Regions from separate parts of the Homo sapiens genome. Here region 2 is linked to region 1. A link means that fine-mapping ties the variant in region 1 to the expression of a gene that starts in the linked region. Tissue or cell type: nucleus accumbens. Region 1 holds a variant in brackets; the other region holds the start of a gene. All regions are shown on one strand. Distances are between the middles of the regions. Region 1 overlaps SYNE3 (spectrin repeat containing nuclear envelope family member 3). Region 2 holds the start of TUNAR (transmembrane neural differentiation associated intracellular calcium regulator).

Region 1 (5,000 bases):
GCCCACACCGCAACCCAGTCACTACCTGCTCACTATTATTATTATTATCCTTATCTTTGGATCTGTCTTTACTAACAGCAGGCATGGCCTAAAGCTCAAGCTCAGATCCCCAGCCCGTCTCCCTGAGGGCTGGTGGTCAGTGTCCTTAGACTGGCTTCCCAGCAGCCTGCTTGTCTCTGACCCTTCCCCATGGCTGGGGTGAAGGAGAGCTCCTGCCATGTGGAATGCTGCCCCACTGACAGCTGTGTGACCCCAGGCAGGTCACTAGGCTACTCTGGGTCTCCCTTTTTCATCCTGAGACAACGATAACAGTCTCTGCTTGTCCACCTCCCAGGGTTATAATATTAATTTTAAAAACACTTTTATCCAGGTACAGTGCTGCATGCCTATAATCCTAGCACTCTGGGAGGCTGAGGCAGGAGAATTGCTCGAGCTTAGGAGTTTGAGACCAGCCTGGACAACACAGTGAGACCATGTCTCTACAAAAAAAAAAAAAAAAAAAAAAATTAAAAATTAGCCGGATGTAGTGGCATATGCCTGTAGTCCCAGCTACTTGGGAGGCTGATGTGGGAGGATCGCTTGAGCTTGGGAGGTCGAGGCTGCAGTGAGCCGTGATCAAACCACTACGCTCCAGCCTGGGTGCCACAGCGAGACCATGTCTCAAAAAATAATATTAAAAATAATAAAAATAAAATAAAAACACTATGAATTAAACATGGGTATAAGTTAGTGTACTTTGTAAACTGTTGAACAATTATGTAGACCCTTCCCCAATGTGTGCAAATGGGCAATGGTCCCCATCCTTTTTTTACTCCATACAATAATCGTTGATGATGACGATGATGATGACGATGATGATAATAGTATAGAAGGACTTCCCCTCCTACCTTTGTTATCAAAGAGTGAGGCAAACAAGCTCCTTCCAAAGGCTGTCTCTGTGTGCATGTGAGTGGGAGGTGCTCAGGGAGAGTGAAGAATGGGGAGATTCCTCAAGAGAGGGAAAGAGGGTTTGTTTGGCCAAGTAGCAGGATGTGGCAGGGGCCCAGGGGGTGGTGGCCACAGCAAGTACCCACACAGGGACCCCGAGTCCCTCTCAGCAGCGAGCAGTGATGGGGAAAACAAAAGTACCATAGTGGCCAGTGTGGCCTGAAGACCCAAGGGCCAGTGTGGAATGTTCTAGACTGAATACGATTATCCACCCAGGATGTTTCACACCACCCAGGGGCAGGGTTCCACAGCATGGCTGAGGATGAATTTGTTGCCATTCAGAGAGAGATTTAATTTGATTAAAAATAATAGTAGACCAGGCGTGGTGACTCATGCCTGTAATCCCAGCAGTTTGGGAGACCAAGGCAGGAGGATCGCTGAGGCCAGGAGTATGCAACCACTCTGGGCAAGACAGTGAGGCCCCATCTCTCCAAAAGCATTTTTTTTAATTAAAAAAAAAAAAAAACTAGCCAGGCACAGTGGCATATGCCTGTAGTCCTAGTTACTCAAGAGGCTGAGGCAGGAAGATTGCTTGAGCCCAGGAGGTTGAGGCTGCAGTGAGCCATGATCACACTACTGCACTCAAGCCTGGGCAGCAGGGCAAGAACCTGTCACTAAAAAACTAAAAATAAGAAAAAAAAGAGCCGGATGTGGTGGCTCACGCCTGTAATCCCAACACTTTGGGAGGCCGAGGCGGACAGATCACGAGGTCAGGAGTTTGAGGCCATCCTGGCCAACATGGTGAAACACCGTCTCTACTGAAAATACAAAAATTAGCCGGGCATGGTGGCGCACACCTGTGATCCTAGCTACTCAGGAGGCTGAGGCAGGAGACTTGCTTGAACCTGGGAGGCAGATGTTGCAGTGAGCCGAGATCACAACACTGCACTCCAGCCATCACACCACTGCACTCCAGCCTGGGCAACAGAGCAACACGCCGTCTCAGGAAAAAAAAAAAAAGAAAGTAAGATGATATTTCTGATTCCCAGAAATGTGAAAGGAGACTTCATATTCCCCAAGCTAGCAACACAATAAGTCCAAATTTACAAACAAGGGAGCTGGGGACCCACAGAAACCACCAGCCTTGAGGAATGATTCTCTACAGCTGCCAGAGAAGCCTCCTCCACACCTGCTCCCAGCTTCAGCTCAGATGGAGTCCAGCTCTGAAAATCACAGGAGCCAACAACTCTGGGGAAGAAGTGAAATTCCATCTCCCTTGGCCACACCCAGAAGGAGCAGCCAGGTCTGGAATGTCCCATGCGGACAATGGCCCCTTCTCCAAAGCCTGGTGTCCTGACTGTGTGGTCCCCCCAGACCCCTGGACCTTCGTCCTTCTTATCCTCATGAAAGAGGCACAGGCTGGACAGAAGGGGACACAAAGACCCGAGACCCACTGCCTTTTCAAGGGAGTGAGTTTGATGCTTCTTTACCAAGGCAGAGGAGCTGGCTGGTCCAAAGGCAGGCAAGACACCAAGCCCCCTTCCCCGACCTGGAGAAGAAACGTCTGCCCTGAAAGATCAACCTGTAGGAAGTTTATTGGAGGCTTGAAGCCAGGGGAGGCCAGAGGCTGTGGCTAGGCTGGAAAAGCCGAATTTTGAGAAGTAGATTCCACTCTTTTTCACTGCGCTGATGATTACACTCTTTGGCTGGTGTGAGATTCTTTTATAGCCCATCACCAGCAAGGACACAGTCCAGGAGTGCTTGGCAAGG[T/G]CTGCGTGGCCAGCTGGGAGAAAGTACTTGAACTGCAGCCACAGAATTATTCCAATTTGTCGCAGCCAATGAGGGCAAGGGGAAGGTGGGGATCGGATGTAAGGAAACACCTTGGAGAGAAGTATCAGGAGACCAGGAAAGTGGAGGAATGGGGTTAATCAGGGTTTTCCCTCAACCCAGCCAAGACCAGGTGACCCCCAGCTGAGCATTATGCTGAGTGCTAGGGTCCTGGATGAACAAGCTGGTAGGAAAGAGGGCTGCAGATAAGAGCGCAGACGACTGCAAAAAGGGCCAGGAGAGACCGCAAAGTAGTATGAGAGCTCAGGGAGGGATGGGAGAAATCCAGGAAGGCTTTGTGGAGGAGGTGGCATTGGCATGAAGCCTGCAGGTCTCTAATTAAAGACAACTGGAGAAGGATATTTGAGCAAAGGTAGGGAAGTAAGATATATTGAAGGATGAATGCATTGGGAATCCAAGCCTTGAGAAACACCAGGGTGCTCCTGACCAAGACGGTGGCCCAGAAGCTGGTGAGGAAGCTGCCTGGCTCAGGCCAGGACCCAGATACAGGACAAGGGAGCCTGAGATCGTGCCACTGCACTCCAGCCTGGGCAACAGAGCAAGACTCCCTCTCAATAAACAAATAAATACATATGCTGGAACCTGGGAGTGTGGCTGGAAGCTCCTAAGACCCACTGCTGGAGGCTCTGGGGATGGGCAGGGACACTTGGTATGCTGTGTATCCCAGCTTCTAAAACCACAAGAAACGATCGCCTCCATTTCGCCAGCTCTGCCAGCATACCCTGCACTGTGCATACAAGCATGTCTATAAATGATCCTCCTTAATCCTCCCTCCTTCCTGAAAGGCAGCAGCTATCACTCTCCCCGGAAGCAAGCTGAAGCTCAGAGAGCTCTGGGAAATCCTCCTGAGGTGCCACAGCCATGGCAGACTTTGGAGCCCGGGCCTGCAGACCCAGTAGCCAAGCTCTCAACCCAGGAGCGATGGGTTCTCCAATCACACCTTACAGAAAGCCCCCACCCCACGAGGATTCTGGAGTTTCCCTTAACCCCTCGGGAACACAAGGGGTGAGGGGGTTCATTCCTGCTCTACAGATGGGAACATGAGGTCCCGGGAAGGCATGGGACATCCTCCCGGCTGCATGGCTATTAAGAGTCAGAACTGGATCAGAGCCCACGTCCCTGTCACTGCAGCAAACAGGCACTGGAGACAAGCCAACAGAGTTGGTGGAGGAAGCACAAGAGAGACCCCAGCACCCGGGGGCAGGTCCCATGGGTAGGTCGAGAGGCACTAGCTGCCCCCTCTTACCAGCTGGCAACAGGAAAACGTTTTCTTTCTTATTGTGAAATTGGTTTTGAAGTGGCAAAACACACAGTAAATGAAGCATGCCGGAGCCCCGTGGGAGGAGACACTGGCAGAACGCTCAGGCCATGACTCCCCTCTGCCTGGACTCCCACCCCCTCGGGGCTCACAGAAGTGCTGCCTCTGGCTTCCAGGGCCCATCCACCCTGGTCCTGCCAATGTGTCTTCCTAAGGACCACCCTTGACTTTGCTTAAACCAGAACCACCACCTGGAGGGAAAGACCCACCAGCAAAGGGTAGAAAGTTTAAAATGCTAAGCACCCTAACACAGTGGGCACACAGGCAGGGCTGTGATGCTCACAGACAGGTAAGGTCAGGAGCTGGGGCTGAGAAAGGCGGAAACTGGTCAGGAGAGATGCACGGACAGGAGGGTTTCATTTCTTGTGCACACCCAGACCCACACAAAAAAGCATTCCAAGCAGAGGCAACACATGGACAAAGGCTTGGCGGTGGAAGGTCTACGAGGTCTTCTGCCAATCAAAGGAGGGCGTGAGCTTGCAAGGTGTGACAGTGGCTGGAGCTAAGGCCGGTGTAAGCTTGGGAGGTGTGACAGTGGCTGGAGCTAAGGCTGGTGTGAGCTTGCGAGGTGTGACAGTGGCTGGAGCTAAGGCTGTTGTGAGCTTGCGAGGTGTGACAGTGGCTGGAGCTCAGGCCAGTGTGAGCTTGGGAGGTATGACAGTGGCTGGAACTAAGGCTGGTGTGAGCTTGCGAGGTGTGACAGTGGCTGGAGCTAAGGCTGGTGTGAGCTTGTGAGGTGTGACAGTGGCTGGAACTAAGGCTGGTGTGAGTTTGTGAGGTGTGACAGTGGCTGGAGCTAAGGCCAGTGTGAGCTTGCGAGGTGTGACAGTGGCTGGAGCTAAGGCCAGTGTGAGCTTGGGAGGTATGACAGTGGCTGGAACTAAGGCTGGTGTGAGCTTGCGAGGTG
Region 2 (5,515 bases), 410 kb after region 1:
CCAAATTAGGTGTCAAACTCTACCTGCAGATTGGGAAATTGGGGCTGAAGAAAGAGCCGGCAGCCAATTTGGCACACAGAAATAGTTCTTCTGGAGTTTCTGGGGACCACCTCCCTGTCTGCAACTACCCATAATAACTGGTTGGGAAATTCAGAGATATTGCTCCCAATTTCGCCGGAAAATGTTGGAATGCAACTGTTATACACAGGCTGGGATGCAAAGTGCTTTTCTCAGAAAAGTGTGGCCTTTGGACCCTGGTTTCTTAAGACACAGGTTTCTGTTTCCATGGACTTGCAGGGTTTTTCAATAGGAGTTACTGGCATCTCAATAATAATAATAATTGGAGGAAATGTCTTGTCACTAAGCCAACAAAAACCACTCAGACTCTGCTGTTTCCCAAAGCCCCTCATGGAGGGACTCTGTCCTGTAGAGCTGCAGGGCTGGGGTGTGGGTGTTCCTGGGCAGGCCTGATTCCCCTAAATCTCTGCTGAGTCTCTCCTCTGCATCTTTCTCCCCACATCCATACCATGAGGAAGACAGAAAGGCCAGCTAGGGAGGGTATGGGTTGGTGTTGTGGACGAGGTGGTAGGTGATTCCTATTCTGTAGCAGGGATGGGAGGGAAGCAGCCTTTTGGTAGGCAGGAGGATCTTCTGAGAAGTAGGGGCAGAAGGTTCCTTGCACCATCCAACTGGGGAAGGGGCACAGCGGTGGGCCCTGGGAACCTGCTAACCAGGATGTCTGGGTTCTTCCCCCAGCTCTGCTTCTGAGGCACCCAGCAGACCTGGGCAATTTGCCTCCTCGTCGATAGAGACCATGGTCGCTGCTTGCTCTGACCATGTTTCCCGGCACTTGCCTTACTTCCCTGGACGTTGGGGTGGATTTTGGTGAGGTCCCAGAGAACCAGGAGACAGGCTGCTTATCTTCTAGAAAATCATGTTCACATTCATGGAAGGCCTTAGGTACTAGTACTTAGCTATGACCTTTGGAGACAAGGACTCCATCTTCCTGAAGACGTTAAAATGTCCTGTGTACTGAAAGCAATTGGAGGGGCCTGGATTTGAACCCCAGTCTGTGTCAGAGGTCCCAAGTCTTCCAAGAAAGTGGAAGGCGCCCCGAGGCAGGTTAGAGGGCCTACAAGGCGGGCAACTGGACATGGGGATGGGCTGGGGAGGCGCCAAAGGGCGGCAGGGATTGGGGGTATAGTGGTTTGACCACGACTTAACTACCTTCAGCTGCCAGGCCATCCGCCTGTTCCCTGGAAGATATAAGGAGCTGGGAGTGGGGAACGGAGCAACCTGGGCTTCCATGATGAAGAAAGAGACAGCGCAGGAGCAAAATGTCCAGGAAGGAGGGAGAGAGACCAGAGGAAGGAGGAGGCGCCTCTTTCACCCGCGTCCCCAGGTCCCCATGTACGCCACGTGGGTGGGAGCGTGTCCCACACACCCGCGCGCCCAAAGCCACATTCGCCACGCTCCCGCCGGGGCGGGCTCACCGCGCGCCTCTGGGTGCCGAGCCTCCACAGGCCACATAGCCGCCACCTGCTGCTGCATCCCCACTGCGGGGACAGGGGCACTCAGTGCCTCCCTCCGTCCCCCCCGCCCCGCGAAGGCCTCCCATCCTCCAGGGCCAGGCGGAGGCCACGTCTTTCCCGGGCCCCCTCCCCAACGCGGAGAGGGAAGCGGAGGGAGGAGCTTGGCCCGCAGCCGCCGGCCCTCCCCGCACTGGAGCTCCCCCTCCCCTCCCTCCCCGCCCCTCGGCTGCCGCAGCCCGGCTCGCAGCGCGCGTCAGCGGGGGCTCCCCGGAGCGAGTCGCTAGGTAACGGGGCTGGCTCCGCAGACGCGGGGCCGGGGAAGCCCGCGCGCGTCATCAGCAGCGGCGCCGCGGGGCGGGGGGCGCAGAGACCCTCCCCAATCCCGGCCTGCCACCACCTGGCTCGCGCGCAGCCCCGGCCCAGAATGCCTTAACCTGCGCCGATTGCTGCCGCCGAGGTGCCCCTCCCCTGTAGGGACCCCGACGCCGCCAGCCCCTTCCTCCTTTCCCGCAGGTGCGCACTGCTGTGCTTGCGGCCGGGTGGGCGCCCCGCCGCTGCGGTCGCGGTCGCCGCTGGTAAGCTGCGCTCTGGGGCTTGGGGCAGGAAGCAGTGGGGGGCGCTCGAAGAGCAGGGCAGCTACGGCCACCGTGGCCGCCGGACCGGCCATGTGCTAAAGTTTCTGGGGCTCGGCGCCCCGCTGGGCGCGCAGCGCGGGGAGCAGACGCGCCGTGGGTGGGGCAGCGCGGTGCTGCTGGCGCCCGGCCCCCGCGGGGTGCAGCTCTGCGCGTTCTCATGCTGTCTCTCTCTCTTTCCCTCCGCGCTGCCTCTCCGAGGTCCTCCCGCCGAGCCCCGGCGCGGGGCATGAGGAGCCCCCGGGTGCCGCCCAGAGACCAGCAGGCTGCGCGCACACCTAGCCAGCGGCAGACGGGGACATGAGCAGCGCGCACGGGGTCCCGCGCCCGGCGGCCAGCCCTATCCGGCGGCGGCCAGCGGGTCAACGCTGCCCGGGAGAATGAGGCAGGAGCCGGCGGCAGCCTCCTTTTTTTCCTTCTCCTCGCCTTCCTGCGGCTCCGGCGCTCCGGGTCCGGGCCGGGCTGCGGCTCTGCTGCGTGCCCCGCGCGCCCCTCAACCGCCTCCGGATGCGCTTCTCGGTAAGCCAGGCCCTCCGCCTCGCGAACAAAGCTCCCTTCGCAGGGCCCGGAGGCCGCCTCAGGGCCCCTGTCCTACCCTCCTTCCCCACTTACAGCCTGGAAACATTCGGGGCTTCCGATTGAATCGTTCAATTTCCCCTGCCCCGAAGCCCCGCCTGGAGGCTGAACTGCCCGGGCAGACCTGGTGCTTTCTTCTGCCTTCTGGAGAAAGATGTGGGTTTGACATGCAGGCGGGAGACCTGTCTGGTCTAGATAACGGCATGTGTATGCAGCTAGGTTCAGACTTAGCATTTGGGGGCAACAACTCTTATTTAGTGGGTGTCCAGGCCGTGCCGGGCAGTGTGCCTCAAAGCCGCTCTGGGAAATAGGTCCCCGTTTCTCCTTGGCCCAGATGAGGAAACTGAGGCTTAGAGAGGTTGAATGACTTAATCAAGGTCACAAGGTTAGGAAGTGGGAGACCAGGATTGGAAACCAGGGTACCCTACTTCCCTGCCAGACTGTTCCCTTTGTAACAAACACACCTGTCTCATTTCTTCTACTAACTGCTTCCGTCTCGAGAGTCATTGCGTGTGTGTGAAAATACTTGCTCCAATGAGTATCTGTTCTGATGAAATAAATTGCCTGTAGCAAGCACTTTTTGTCCATCCTGCCATCACGCTGCTGCCAACCCCTAATGTGTACTCTACTTTTTAGTTCAGGTGAGAGGATAATATGTTTTCCTAGGTGTTCTCTTTCCTGGGGTTCTGTTTTCCCAGTCCTCCTGAAGGATGGAAAGGACAGTGGTTCCTCCTGTGTGCCCAGCACATGCTAGGCCTCAGAACTGCATCCTTAACCTTTCCCTGGGGGCAGGGCTCATCAAGGTTACCTGCCCCTGGTTTTGTAAATCTTGGAGATGATTACTTAACCGGAGCGGGGGCTGATCCCAGATGGCCACTGTGCAGGGGCTGGCCCAGTGTTGGCTCATATTTGCCAGCCCTCAGTGTCAGCAGAACTTCTGAGCCCCAAACACTTCTGAGCCCCAAAGAAAAGGAGTTTTAATGCAGATACGATGCCTGATGCATGCCCCCAGTTCTCTGGCTTGCCGCTGTTAGCTGTTTGCTTAAGTGCATTTAGTTAACTGTTTGCTTAAGTGCATTTAGTTAACTGTTTGCTTAAGTGCATTTAGTTCCTGAAGGGGCAAGCCACCTGGAATCAATTGATCCTGGTCTGAGGGGCTTGTTCCATTGGTGAAGTCACAGTGTTGAGCTCAGTTGTCTACACGTACATTTGTGTTGGTGCAGAGAAAGTCCCTTAGCAGTAGGGGCCTCTGTGTCTCTGTTAGTAAAGAGCAAGGGTGGACTGACCAGCCCTTCAGACCCCCTTCAGCTAAATGATTCTGAGTGACAAAACTAGTAAGTTACAGGCTTGAGCTAGGATGTCTTAGTCCAGTCATTTGGACGAACATTCTACACTGAATGGGTTGTTGATTTCCAAGAAGAGGACTTGGTTTCCAGGGAGCTGTGAGATTCAGGTTCAGCCCAAAAGAGGTGAAGCTCGAGCTGTGCTTAATAGATTATTTACTGGGCTAACACATAGTGGCTATAAAATGTTCCAAGCTACCAGATTGGGGTTGTGGGATAGGTTAGGCCTTTCAGTAGGAGAGATGACATTAGCTCCTAAGAACTGATGACATACAATGCATTAAGAAGATGCCCAGCAGGCTAGAAAGCAGCAAGCTGGTGAGCTTTTCCTGCCCCTCCAAAAATAATCAATCATATTTGCATAGGTAAAACATTCCCAGCACAAACAATTACTGCAAATAAATAAAGTGATTTTTTTTTTAGACTCTTCCAACTGCATTGTTTGCTGAGTATATTAGCGATGCGTGGAGCCGGCCTTAGCTTGGCTGCAGAGGGGCTGGGACAGGGAAGGTGGGCTGAAGGATGTTCAGACCCTGAGTTAGTTTTTGGCTGTGGATTAGAGCTAAATCCATCACTTTGACCTATGGGTCGTTAATGGGGTTGTCATTGGTCTTTTTAAGATGTGGATTAATGAACCTCTTAAAGTGTTGCCGAATCCCAAATGAAACGGGCATGTCCCACCTTTTTCCCAGAAACTCGGCTCTCAGCGGGTTTTGTGACTGTTTGAAATTCACAAAACCAGAGCAAAGCTTTCATTTTTGACAGGCTCATAGGGATCTGCAAAGGAAAAATAATGCATCTTATGTAGGGATATTAATCTCCCAGCATTGTGTGTTTTAGCTTCTCATGATTAACTGGTAAGGTTTTGAATAAAAATGAATGCAGAGAAACAATCTTCATTAAGTTGCTTTTGAAAATGCTGAGGTAATTATGAAATAACGATTTTTGTGTCATAGATCATACTACTCATAGCCAAAGCTGGATTACATCACAAAACATTACTCTTGTTACTGATATTTATTTTTTAATTCATTAGTTTTCTCATATTTTTTGCCTTTTTTCTCCCCGTGTGAAAATAAGCCATCGAGAATAAATTCTTCCTTTTCAGTTTTTCTTTGTCTTAAATCCAGTTTTTTTTTTTCTGTAAGATCTCTAAGCTGAACTCTTCCACACCATACATATAATGGCCTCATGTTAAAATATGTTTTAAGTGCCTTGGATTTCTTTTGGGAGAACAAGAGGGTTATGTATCGTAAGTAAATAACAGTGATGAGACATTTCCCTTGTTTGCTTACTCTTCTAAGTCAGGGCTTGAGACCATGCCCTCATGATTGCAGCTGCCACACTTAGCATCATGGGGACACAGCCTGAGTGCTGTGGCATTTCTGCATCAGTGAGGATGCACACCTGGACTGATCGGAGTGTGAGGAAA

The links. PIP is the estimated chance that this variant, and not a neighbour inherited with it, causes the effect.
Region 2: it holds the start of TUNAR, and the variant in region 1 is the best candidate, but not a certain one, in a credible set for the expression of TUNAR in nucleus accumbens (GTEx, PIP 0.56).

What each region holds. Positions count from the first base shown.
Region 1 is chr14:95,469,049-95,474,048 of GRCh38, forward strand. The region is part of intron 2 of SYNE3 (spectrin repeat containing nuclear envelope family member 3); the gene reads right to left. Among named protein-coding and RNA genes, the nearest start is that of SYNE3-AS1, 45 kb to the right of the region's middle. The variant T/G (reference allele first, on the strand shown) is at 2,698.
Region 2 is chr14:95,874,495-95,880,009 of GRCh38, forward strand. TUNAR (transmembrane neural differentiation associated intracellular calcium regulator) reads left to right here and starts at 2,338. Exons shown (of 2, transcript NM_001416131.1): 1 at 2,338-2,683. The coding sequence starts at 2,672.